2 separate regions of the Homo sapiens genome follow, and region 1 is linked to region 2. Evidence: fine-mapped expression QTL. A gene starts in region 2. The other region holds a variant in brackets. All regions are shown on one strand. Distances are from middle to middle. Region 1 has its middle 12 kb from the start of LAMB2. Region 2 holds the start of RHOA (ras homolog family member A).

The links. PIP is the estimated chance that this variant, and not a neighbour inherited with it, causes the effect.
Region 1: its variant is the best candidate, but not a certain one, in a credible set for the expression of RHOA in whole blood (INTERVAL, PIP 0.54).

The regions. Positions count from the first base shown.
Region 1 is chr3:49,142,279-49,147,649 of GRCh38, reverse strand. No RefSeq gene overlaps it. Among named protein-coding and RNA genes, the nearest start is that of LAMB2, 12 kb to the right of the region's middle. The variant G/A (reference allele first, on the strand shown) is at 2,732.
Region 2 is chr3:49,409,545-49,414,915 of GRCh38, reverse strand. RHOA (ras homolog family member A) reads left to right here and starts at 2,940. Exons shown (of 5, transcript NM_001664.4): 1 at 2,940-3,096. It overlaps TCTA (T cell leukemia translocation altered), which reads right to left and starts at 2,493. Exons shown (of 3, transcript NM_022171.3): 1 at 2,276-2,493; 2 at 1,806-1,860; 3 at 1-96. The coding sequence starts at 2,489. The coding sequence ends at 54. RefSeq lists enhancers at 2,281-2,690, 2,626-2,920, 2,819-3,793 and silencers at 2,761-3,060, 3,121-3,400, 3,411-3,500.

The DNA of each region.
Region 1 (5,371 bases), 270 kb after region 2:
CCTCAGCCTCCTGAGTAGCTGGGACTACAGGCGCATGCTACCATACCTGGCTAATTTTTTTTTTTTTTTTTTTTTTAGTAGAGGTGGGGTTTCACCATGTTAGCCAGGATGGTCTCAATCTCCTGACCTTGTGATCCGCCCAACTCGGCCTCCCAAAATGCTGGGATTACAGGCTTGAGCCACCGCACCTGGCTACCCGGCTAATTTTTGTATTTTTAGTAGAGTTGGGGTTTCACCATATTGGCCAGGCTGGTCACGAACTCCTGACCTCAGGTGATCTGACCACCTTGGCCTCCCAAAGTGCTGGGATTATAGGTGTGAGCCACTGCGCCTGGCTCAGAGACATAAATTTTATTTTATTTATTTTAATTTTTTTGAGATGGAGTCTCACTCTGTTGCCCAGGCTGGAGTGCAGTGGCGCAATCTTGGCTCACTGCAAGCTCCGCTTCCTGGGTTCATGCCATTCTCCTGCCTCAGCCTCCTGAGTAGTAGCTGGGACTACAGGCGCCCGCCACCATGCTTGGCTAATTTTTTTGTATTTTTAGTAGAGACGGGGTTTGACTGTGTTAGCCAGGATGATCTCCATCTCCTGATCTCATGGTCCGCCCACCTCGGCCTCCAAAAGTGCTGGGATTACAGGCATGAGCCACTGTGCCTGGCCAATTTTATTTTTTTATTTTATTTTATTTTATTATTATTATTATTTTTTGAGATGGAGTCTTGCTCTGTCACCCAGGCTGGAGTGCAGTGGCGCTATCTTGGCTCACTGCAAGCTCCGCCTCCCACGTTCACACCATTCTCCTTCCTCAGCCTCCCAAGTAGCTGGGACTACAGGTGCCTGCCACTGCGCCCAGCTAATTTTTTGTTTTTGTATTTTTAGTAGAGATGGGGTTTCACCGTGTTAGCCAGGATGGTCTCGATCTCCTGACCTCATGATCCACCCGCCTCGGCTTCCCAAAGTGCTGGGATTACAGGCGTGAGCCACCACGCCTGGCCTATTTTATTTTATTTTATTTTATTTTATTTTATTTTATTTTATTTTATTTTTTGAGATGGAGTTTTGCTCTTGTCACCCAGGTTGGAGTACAGTGGCACAATGTTGACTCACTGCAACCTCTGCCTCCCAGGTTCAAGCGATTCTCTTGCCTCAGCCTCCTCAGTAGCTGGGATCACAGGTGCTGGCCACCTTGTCTGGCTAGTTTTGTTTTATTTTATTTTATTTTATTTTTGTGTTTTTAGTAGAGAGAGGGTCTCACCACATTGGCCAGGCTGGTCTTGAACTCCTGACCTCAGGTGATCTGCACGCCTCGGCCTCCCAAAGTCCTGGGATTACAGGCATGAGCCACCTGCACCCGGCCTCTTTGTTTGTTTATTTACTTATTTATTTTGAGACAGAGTTTCGCTCTTGTTGCCCAGGCTGTAGTGCAATGGCACGATCTCGGCTCACTGCAACCTCTGCCTCCTGGGTTCAAGCGATTCTTCTGCTGCAGCCTTTGGAGTAGCCGGGATTATAGGCGCCTGCCACCATGCCCAGCTAATTTTTTTTTGTATTTTTAGTAGAGACGGGATTTCACCATGTTGGCCAGACTGGTGTTGAATTCCTGACCTCAGGTGATCCACCTGCCTCGCCCTCCCAAAGTGCTGAGATTACAGGCGTGAACCACTGCGCCCAGTCTCTGAGACATAAATTATAGCAAGACAGGATTGGTGCAGTGAGGCTGGGAGGCAGGGGATCATAGAGGCCTGGAGTTGCAGCAAGAGGATTAAGACCTACATAGATGGAGAGTGTAGGCAGAGGAGCCCAGGCAGGGGAAACAGCTCATGCAAAAGACAGAAGATAAGAATAGGCAAGTGCCAGATCTCATAGGACCTTTTGGGCCAGGAGAGGGGCTTAACCTTTATCCCAGGGGAAGTGGGGAACCATGGAAGAGATTTAAGCAGGGAAGAGATGTGGGGAGAATTTATTGTTTGGTGGAAGGCCCAGATGCAAGCTCCCGAAATGATTCTGAGTGAGAGATGGCATTCTCTCTACTAGATTGGGGCCACTGGAGATGGAGGAAAAATTGACTCAAAACAGATTAGGGGTTCAAGGGGCCGGGCATGGTGGCTCACGCCTGTAATCCCAGCACTTTGGGAGGCCGAGGTGGGATCACCTGAGGTCAAAAGTTTGAGAGAAGCCTGGTGAACATGGTGAAACCCCGTCTGTACTAAAAATACAAAAATTAGCTGGGCGTGGTGGCGGGTGTCTGTAATCCCAGCACTTTGGGAGGCCGAGTTGGGCGGATCACAAGGTCAGGAGATTGAGGCCATCCTGGCTAACATGGCGAAACCCCACCTCTACCAAAAAAAAAAAAAAAAAATTAGCCAGGTATGGTAGCATGCACCTGTAGTCCCAGATACTTGGGAGGCTGAGGCAGGAGAATTGCTTGAACCTGGGAGGTAGAGGTTACAGTGAGCCAAGATCACAGCATTACACTCCAGCCTGGACAACTAGAGCAAAACTCTGTCTCAAAAAAAAAAAAAAAAAAAAGAGAGAGATTAGGAAACAGAAGGGGGGCTGAGGGGTGGGGGTAGGGATGTCCCCCTTGGATGAGGGCCAATCCAAGAAAGGTGGCAAGTAAGTGTTAATGAGTGGGGCTGATTGCCTCTTGCTGGCTTCCCTTGACCCTCTTGCTAGCTTGTGCACCTGCCATGGGTGAACACGTTGCCTGGGCTGGGGTCTTTGTACCCT[G/A]GGGCCTCAGGCATTTACAGGAGTTCCACCAGGCAGGCTCATGGAGGCAGCAAGGCCAGGCCTCTCCAGCACGATGCCTGAAGCCTGTGCCTGCCTGTTCTGCAGCATCTCAGCTCTGCTCCATGGGGATGGGCCTCAGTGAGTGTATGTGCCAGGCTTGAAGTGGCTTCAGGGTAGGGGTTGCAGGAGCACCATGAGGTTCATCTAATCTTTCCCTTCCTCTGCCAGCATGTGTGCCATCTGCAAGGTTCACTGAGCACTGAGTGGGGCCTGCTATGTGGGCAGTATCCCTGCCATCTTCATATCATTGGTCATACTTGTGACCACTGTGTGCCTGGAAAGCAGGCTTTGGGCCTCTGGCTGCAGTGATGAGCCTTCAGGGCCTGTAGGCATGAGGTTGGGGGCCAGCTGTCTCCTGTCCTTGCATGGCTTGATTGCTTTGTCATTCTCCACAGAGTGCCACTGATATGCTGAAGGTACCACCAGTGCCATCTATAACCCTGTGTATGGGCAGTGCATGTTCCAGGAAGGACTTGCTGGTTGCTGCCGTGACTACTGCCTCCCTGGCTACTGAAGCTTTTGGCAGTGCCAGCCCTGTGCCTGCAATGGGCATGCTGAGTTGTGCCACCCCCTTATATGTATCTGCCAGGCCTGCCAGGCTGGCACTGTAAAAGGTGAGCACTGTCATTGGATGGGTTGAACAGGCCCCATACCATGTGCTACTGCCCCCAGGTGCTTGGATGGCTACTATGGAGACCCCACTCTAGGCTTGGGCCAGCGGTGCTGGCTCTGCCTTTGTCCTGGGCACCCCAATTCCAGCCTCTATCATGGGAGTTCCTGCCATGTGGACAGCATGAGTGGGCATATCCTAGTCTTCTGTTTACCTGGCTATGCAGGTGAGGCATGGTTGGCAGTGACAAAGCCACAGCCCTGGTCAATTGTTCACAATCCCATCAGGTCCACATGACAAATCTTCCCAATGCCACCTGTATGCTGAGCTGGGCACCATCTTCAAGGAGTTCCTGTTCTGAGGAAGGAGGGCTGAATGGGGGGAATTATAGGTATAGACCTTGAAAGCCAGGAAGATGGGCTATAATATACCTATTGTGTCCCTCCTGGCCAGACCTCAGACTTTCTGGCTGCATATCTGAGACCCACAGGCCCCCAGGGTACAGGAAGACACATATACCCCAGTCCTCTCCAGGCCTCAGCTGTGACCACTGCTTCTGTGGCTATTTTGGGCACCTGGCCAGGAGGATACCCCAGAAGAGTCCATACCGGTCTGCCAGTGTGGCAATATCAATCTCCATGATCCTGCTGCCTGTGACCCCCACAGTGGGCACTGCCAGCATTCTGTGCACCACAGCCATGTCCCTGCCTATGCCCACGGCAAGCCTGGCTTCCGCAGCAGTGACCTGTGTTGCGGGAAGTCAGGGACCCCAAATGGAGGGACCGGCTGAAGCCATGGCAGAAGAACGTGGATTGTGAAGATTTCATGGACATTTATTAGTTCCCCAAATTAATACTTTTATAATTTCTTATGCCTGTCTTTACTGCAATCTGTAAACATAAATTGTGAAGATTTCATGGACACTTATCACTTTCCCAATCAATACCCTTGTGATTTCCTATGCCTGTCTTTACTTTAATATCTTAATCCTGTCATCTCGTAAACTGAGGAGGATGTATGTCGCCTCAGGACCCTGTGATGATTGCATTAACTGCACAAATTGTAGAGCATGTGTGTTTGAACAATATGAAATCTGGGCACCTTGAAAAAAGAACAGGATAACAGCAATGTTCAGGGAACAAGAGAGATAACCTTAAACTCTGACCGCTGGTGAGCCAGGCGGAACAGAGCTGTATTTCTCTTCTTTCAAAAGCAAATGGGAGAAATATCGCTGAATTCTTTTTCTCAGCAAGGAACATCCCTGAGAAAGAGAATGCGCCTCTGAGAGTAGGCCTCTAAAATGGCCCCCTTGGGTGTGGCCATCTTCTGTGGTCGAAACTGTAGAGATGAAATAAGCCCCAGTCTCCCATAGCGCTCCCAGGCTTATTAGGATGAGGAAATTCCCGCCTAATAAATTTTGGTCAGACAGGTTGCTCTCAAACCCTGTCTCCTGATAAGATGTTATCAGTGACAATGGTGCCCGAAACTTCATTAGCAATTTTAATTTTGCCCCAGTCCTGTGGTCCTGTGATCTCGCCCTGCCTCCATTTGCCTTGTGATATTCTATCACCTTGTGAAGCATGTGATCTCTGTGACCCACACCCTATTCATACACTCCCTCCCCTTTTGAAAATCACTAATAAAAACTTGCTGGTTTCACGGCTCAGAGGGCATCATGGAACCTACCGACATGTGATGTCTCCCCCAGACGCCCAGTTTTAAAATTTATCTCTTTTGTACTCTGTCCCTTTATTTCTCAACCTGGCCGATGCTTAGGGAAAACAGAAAAGAACCTGTGTGACTATTGGGGGCAGGTTCCCCTATAGACCTGGGCTCAGAGGGCTGCCAGCATGAGTTTGTGGGTGGGGACATCCCAGGGTGACCGGGTAGGATTTTCACTCCCCAGATTGGCCAAGCCTTCCTCTCCCCAGGCTACAGTTGTGACCCTTGAGACAATGTCCTCATGTGGT
Region 2 (5,371 bases):
TGTAGAAGCCAGCAGACCCAGTGATGCCCTTGGAGACCCTCTGCTGCCTTCCCTTATTCTCTGTGGGTTTTGAGAGGTTCGTTTGCTGCCATTTCCCTGAAAGTGATGGAGAGAGAGAAGAGAGAGTGGTTATTCCATGGGCAGAACAGTTGCTGAAATTGGCTCTCCCAAGCTCCTTCTTGGGGGCTGAGCTAGGCTCAGTAAGGTCACATAACAATCTAGACCTCTCTGCTGGTCTCCCACAGCCCACCCTGGGCCCAGCACCTTCTCCCTGCAGACTCATTCTTCTTCCTGGTTCTCCATGTTAGTACGGCATTGCCATCCTTCTCTAGTTTTTTTATTCTTTTTATTTATTACTATTGTTATTACTTTTCTTTTTTTGAGACGGAGTTTCACTCTTGTTGCCCAGGTTGGGGTGCAATGGCAAGATCTCAGCTCACTGCAGCCTCCACCTCCCGGGTTCAAGCAATTTTCCTGCCTCAGCCTCCCAAGTAGCTGGGATTACAGGCGCCCGCCACCACACCCAGCTAGTTTTTGTATTTTTAGTGAAGACGGGGTTTCGCCATGTTGGCCAGGCTGGTCTCAAACTCCTGGCCTCAGGTGATCTACCCTCCTCAGTCTCCCAAAGTGCTAGGAACAGGCGTGAGCCACCATGCCCGGCCTGTTATTTTTTTTGAGACAGAGTCTCACTCTGATGCCCAGTCTGGAGTGCAGTGGCGTGATCTGGGCTCACTGCAACCTCTGCCTCCTGGGTTCAAGTGATTCTCATGCCTCAGCCTCCCGAGTAGCTGGGATTACAGGCGTATGCCACCATGCCCAGCTAATTTTTTCTATTTTTAGTAAAGACGGGGTTTCCCTATGTTGGCCAGGCTAGTCTCAAACTCCTGACCTCAAGTGATCCGCCCATCTCAGCCTCCCAAAGTGCTGGGATTACAGGCATGAGCCATGGGGCCTGGCCTCTTCTCTAAGACAGAAACCTGGGCAGTGGCAGCCTTTCTAACCTCTAGCCCTAACTCTTGGACCCCTTTATCTACTTGCCATGAAGTAGGCATTTATAAAGGCAAATTAGATCAGACCACAGCCTTGCTGAGTTAGTCTTTCAATGGCTCCCAGGGTCCAACAAGCTCTCACGTTCAAGCTCCAGCATCACAGTCTTACCTATTCTAATATGTCACCCGTATTCTTCCCTCTTAGCCTTGCTCAATCCATTCCCTTTGCTTGGTACACTTTGTCACCCTGTGGCATTTGATCTCGGCTTAGGTGTCTTTCTTGGGAGAAGCCTTCCCTGACCACCCTTGCCCCATGCACTGCCGCCCTCCCCTAATAAATCCCTGGCTCCCCATGAGCAGGGCCCGGGTTGTCTTTGTTCTCTGGGCCTCGTGTGGCCCCTATCACGTGATAGGGGCCCAGAGATTATCTGAATGAATGCCCTGATTAGTGAGCGCATGTTTTGCAGAAGAGGAGGCTGACCCTGATGAGGTCAATGTGCTCAGGACAGAGATTACTGCCTTCCCAACTGAGGGGATTGTGCAGAGTGGAATCCAACAAACCTGTCATTTCATCTCTCTGAAATTATGACAATACCACCACCTATCCTACAGGCTGCTGAACAGCATGATGATGGACTGTCCAGACCTTGGTGTCACCCTAACTTGAAGCCTGAGCTCTACGTGCAGACTTGAAGCTTGCTGCAAAGGCCATTAAGCTGGTGGGCTTAAAGCCTGAGAACTCCCCTCTCTGTCACCAGCACAGGAGTGTCCTTGGAATGCCAAGCATGGGGTTGCGGTATGGACAGATTTACTCACCACGAAGGGAAATGCGTGGAGCCATCAGGCGTGGATCCATTCTGACCACCCAGACCTGGAGGCAGAAACACATCCAGAGCTGCAGAAGGCTGGGGTGGGAATCTGAGCAGGCATCAGCCCAGGTCAGGTTAGAGACCACTGGTATTGTTTGGTGAAGTCTGGTGAGGGTCCTAAGGGACTAATGGTATTGCCAGGTGAGAGTTCTGAGGAACAGATACAATGTGATGGGTGGACTGGTGGGGATTCTGGCGTAAAATGGTATGGTGGCATGAGTCAGGGCACAACGTTAAGTTCTCCCATCCAAGTACCTGGCTTAGCTTCCGAGGTCAGATGCGTTCAGGGTAGTAAGGCCGTGAACCAATGTTAAGTTCTGATGAGCCTCTTGCAGGATAGTGGGGAACCCAATGGTACAGTCGGGAGAGGGTGGGGGCGGGGGCGGCCAGCCCACGGAGGTTCGTAGGAAGCCTCACCTGGACGGTGATACAACCCGGTCACTGTATTCCCGTAGAACCCCCACGCCAGCTGGATGCCCAGGAGACTTAACACCAACCACAGCAGCAGCAGCTTGAAGAGGGTCACGCGCATGTCCTGCGCCTCCCACTCCCGCAAGAACTCGCTGCCCAGCGCGCCCAGCACCGTGGCCGGCAGAGCCTGCAAGGCCTGCCCAGACCAGGACTCCGCCATGACTGGCCCTCGCCCCACCCGGGGTACTGTCACCGTAGTCCCCACCACGCACGCGTGTGGTCTTCCGGGACCAGGCCCGTTAGTGCGCACGCGTAAACCCAGCCAGGGTGGGGCCTACTTCGCGTGCGTGAAGAGTTGGCAGTTCGGGGAGGAGTATTAAAACCGCGCACGCGCACCTAACCCCACCCTGCTTGCTTAAGGGATGAGTGACTCCGGGAGTACAAAATAGCAACCAGGTCTTTTATAGCCCCGGAGTTCCCGTGATGCCCCACGCGGCTGCAATGATTGGTTAAGGGTTTTGCTTTTAGGGCGTGGACGGGCTCCTGAGCAATAGTGGATGAGCTGTGAGTGCGCGCGCGTGCGCGGGGCCGCGACCTGTGCCGGCTCGAGCCCGCTGGGCACTCGGAGGCGCGCACGTCGTTCCCCGCCCTCCCGCCGCCGCCCGCCCTCGCTCTCTCGCGCTACCCTCCCGCCGCCCGCGGTCCTCCGTCGGTTCTCTCGTTAGTCCACGGTCTGGTCTTCAGCTACCCGCCTTCGTCTCCGAGTTTGCGACTCGCGGACCGGCGTCCCCGGCGCGAAGAGGCTGGACTCGGATTCGTTGCCTGAGGTGAGCGGAAGGGTTCCCTCCAGGCGCCGCGGGGCCCCAGGCCCGCCAGCCCGGTACTCTTCCGGCCGGCAGGCCGCCGCACCGCCGCGGCCGCGCCCCACCGGCTGCTCGTGGCCGAGCCGCCCCTGGCCCCTGACCCTTGACCTGACTCCCAGCCCGGGCCCCGCGCCCCAAGCGGCGACCCCGCCCGCGCAGTCCCCGGAAGCGCGCCCGGTAGTCTCCTGTGCCCCTTCCCCCGCCCGGCCGGGCCTGGTGGAGCCCAGGCTGCCCGCCTGCCCGCCCTCGGTCCCCGGAGCTTCCTCTCCCAGCGGCGCCGGGCAGGGCGGGGGCTTTGGGCCGGGCCCCGCGACCGCGCAGTGTAGCCGGCCGCTGAAAGCGCGCGTGGCTGTCGGAGTTGAAATGGGAAAGAAACTCTTTACAACTCCATTTTGCTTTTTACGTTTAACGAGAAACGACAATCACTGTTTCATATTGATTAAAGTCCAGTTACACTTTGGGTAGGTTTTCTTTTAATGCAGACTTGTTGGAGACTGTGTAAGTAAGTAAAAGATTGTATTGAACGCTTAGGGGTATGATCTACGGCCATACCACCTGGAACGCGCCCGAACTCGTCTGAAAGCTTTGGGGTCTGTTTTGAGTGGAAAAGGGGTATTTTCCATTTGGAAAAAAAAAACAACACACAAAACTGTAAATGATTTAAGCGATGTTGCATGAAAATAGATGCAATGTTGCTTAGTCGAAGTCGCTGTATTGATTAGGAATGATCTAAATATCTGTACCTTAGTTACTGATTGGATCTACAGTTACGGGTCGTCTTCATTGAATAGCGCTATTCGCATCCAAGTTGATTTGTTCACAAACCTTGTTTAGTAGTTTACGGTGGAAAATTGGAATCCTTTTTACCTCAAAGTTGGTTCCACTTGTGTTTTTTAATAGTTCTGATTTTAAATTTTTACCTCTGTTGTTGACTTGTTTGGTTCTGTCTTGAAGAAAGTCTTAAACGTTTCTTGCAGGTGTGTAAGTAGATATTTCACTCTGCCTTTCTGAAGGAGAAAAATTGAAAAACCAAAAAACTTCCATAATTTAAAATGTTGTATGTGGAGAGAATTTTTCAACCACTTAGTATCACCCAGATGTGTAATGTGTACCATGCGGATGATTGTCACCTTAGATGTGGCTAGATTGGCGGAGATACTGTTTTGAGCATTTGGCACAAGTGACATTGGACTGAAAAACTAGTTTTTAATTGTAAAGAATGACTTATTGAAGGATCTCTGGATAACTTGTCTTAATTGGTTCCATCTACTTTTGTGGAGCACTGATGGCTCTTGGGGACATTAAATATATAAGGTGCACCTTGGTTTGAGTTAAAGTCTAGTGCTAGATTTATCCTCTCTGTTCTCATAAAAATCTGTGTTGGAGGGAAGAAGAGAGTAGGAATACTGTGTAGTTCTTGAGTTTTAGATCTAAGAGGAATCTTTCAGGACTGGTTGTCCAACCCCATTTGCAGATGAGCAAACTGAGTCCCAGAGACTTAAGTAAATTTCCCAAGGTTACCTATCTAGTCAGGAGCAGACCAGAACTGTCTGCTCTGTTAAGGTATTCTCCATTTACTCCCAAGCAGTTGGCCTCCAGAGTCAGCTAAAATTCAGGACTTCTAGCTTATTCCATTGTTTCTTCTTTTAAACCTTGTTGATGGTGAATAGTTTGGGAGAAACTGTTCATTTGCCAAAAAATTTCGGTTCATTAGCTTACACAGCACTCTCCCCTTGTTAACTGGATGGTCCTGCCTTCAATTGAGGGAGATAGATGAATGTACGAGGGTCCCTGGTTGGCCTAATCATGGCTTTGTTTGGATTTTTTTTTAAGGGACCAACTTCTAGAGCAAGGCCTACACTTTACTGCTTCAAAACCAAGATATTTAGGTCAGGCTAAGATATTTTTAGTTAACTGTGGGCACTTTTGACTGTTGATTTGGGGTACTGCGTGTATCAAGTAAACAATTCCCTGTGCACATGCATGTGGTGGTGGTGGAGTATTTTCGTAGTCCTGATTTCTTTCCATTTGTCAGTTAACTGCTTTTTAAAAGTTTATTCTGGTCATATGGGGGTGTAAGTTATTAGGAGAGTAAAAACAGGTAGCTCTTCAGGTGTTTCTTGTCCATGGGGTGGAGTCCATGCAGTGACTGGAGAAGGTGCTAGTTTGCGTCTTTTTAATTGTCTTAGAGAGCTGAGAGATATATGTTAACTCTGAGAAGAAAGACTGATCAGCTTCT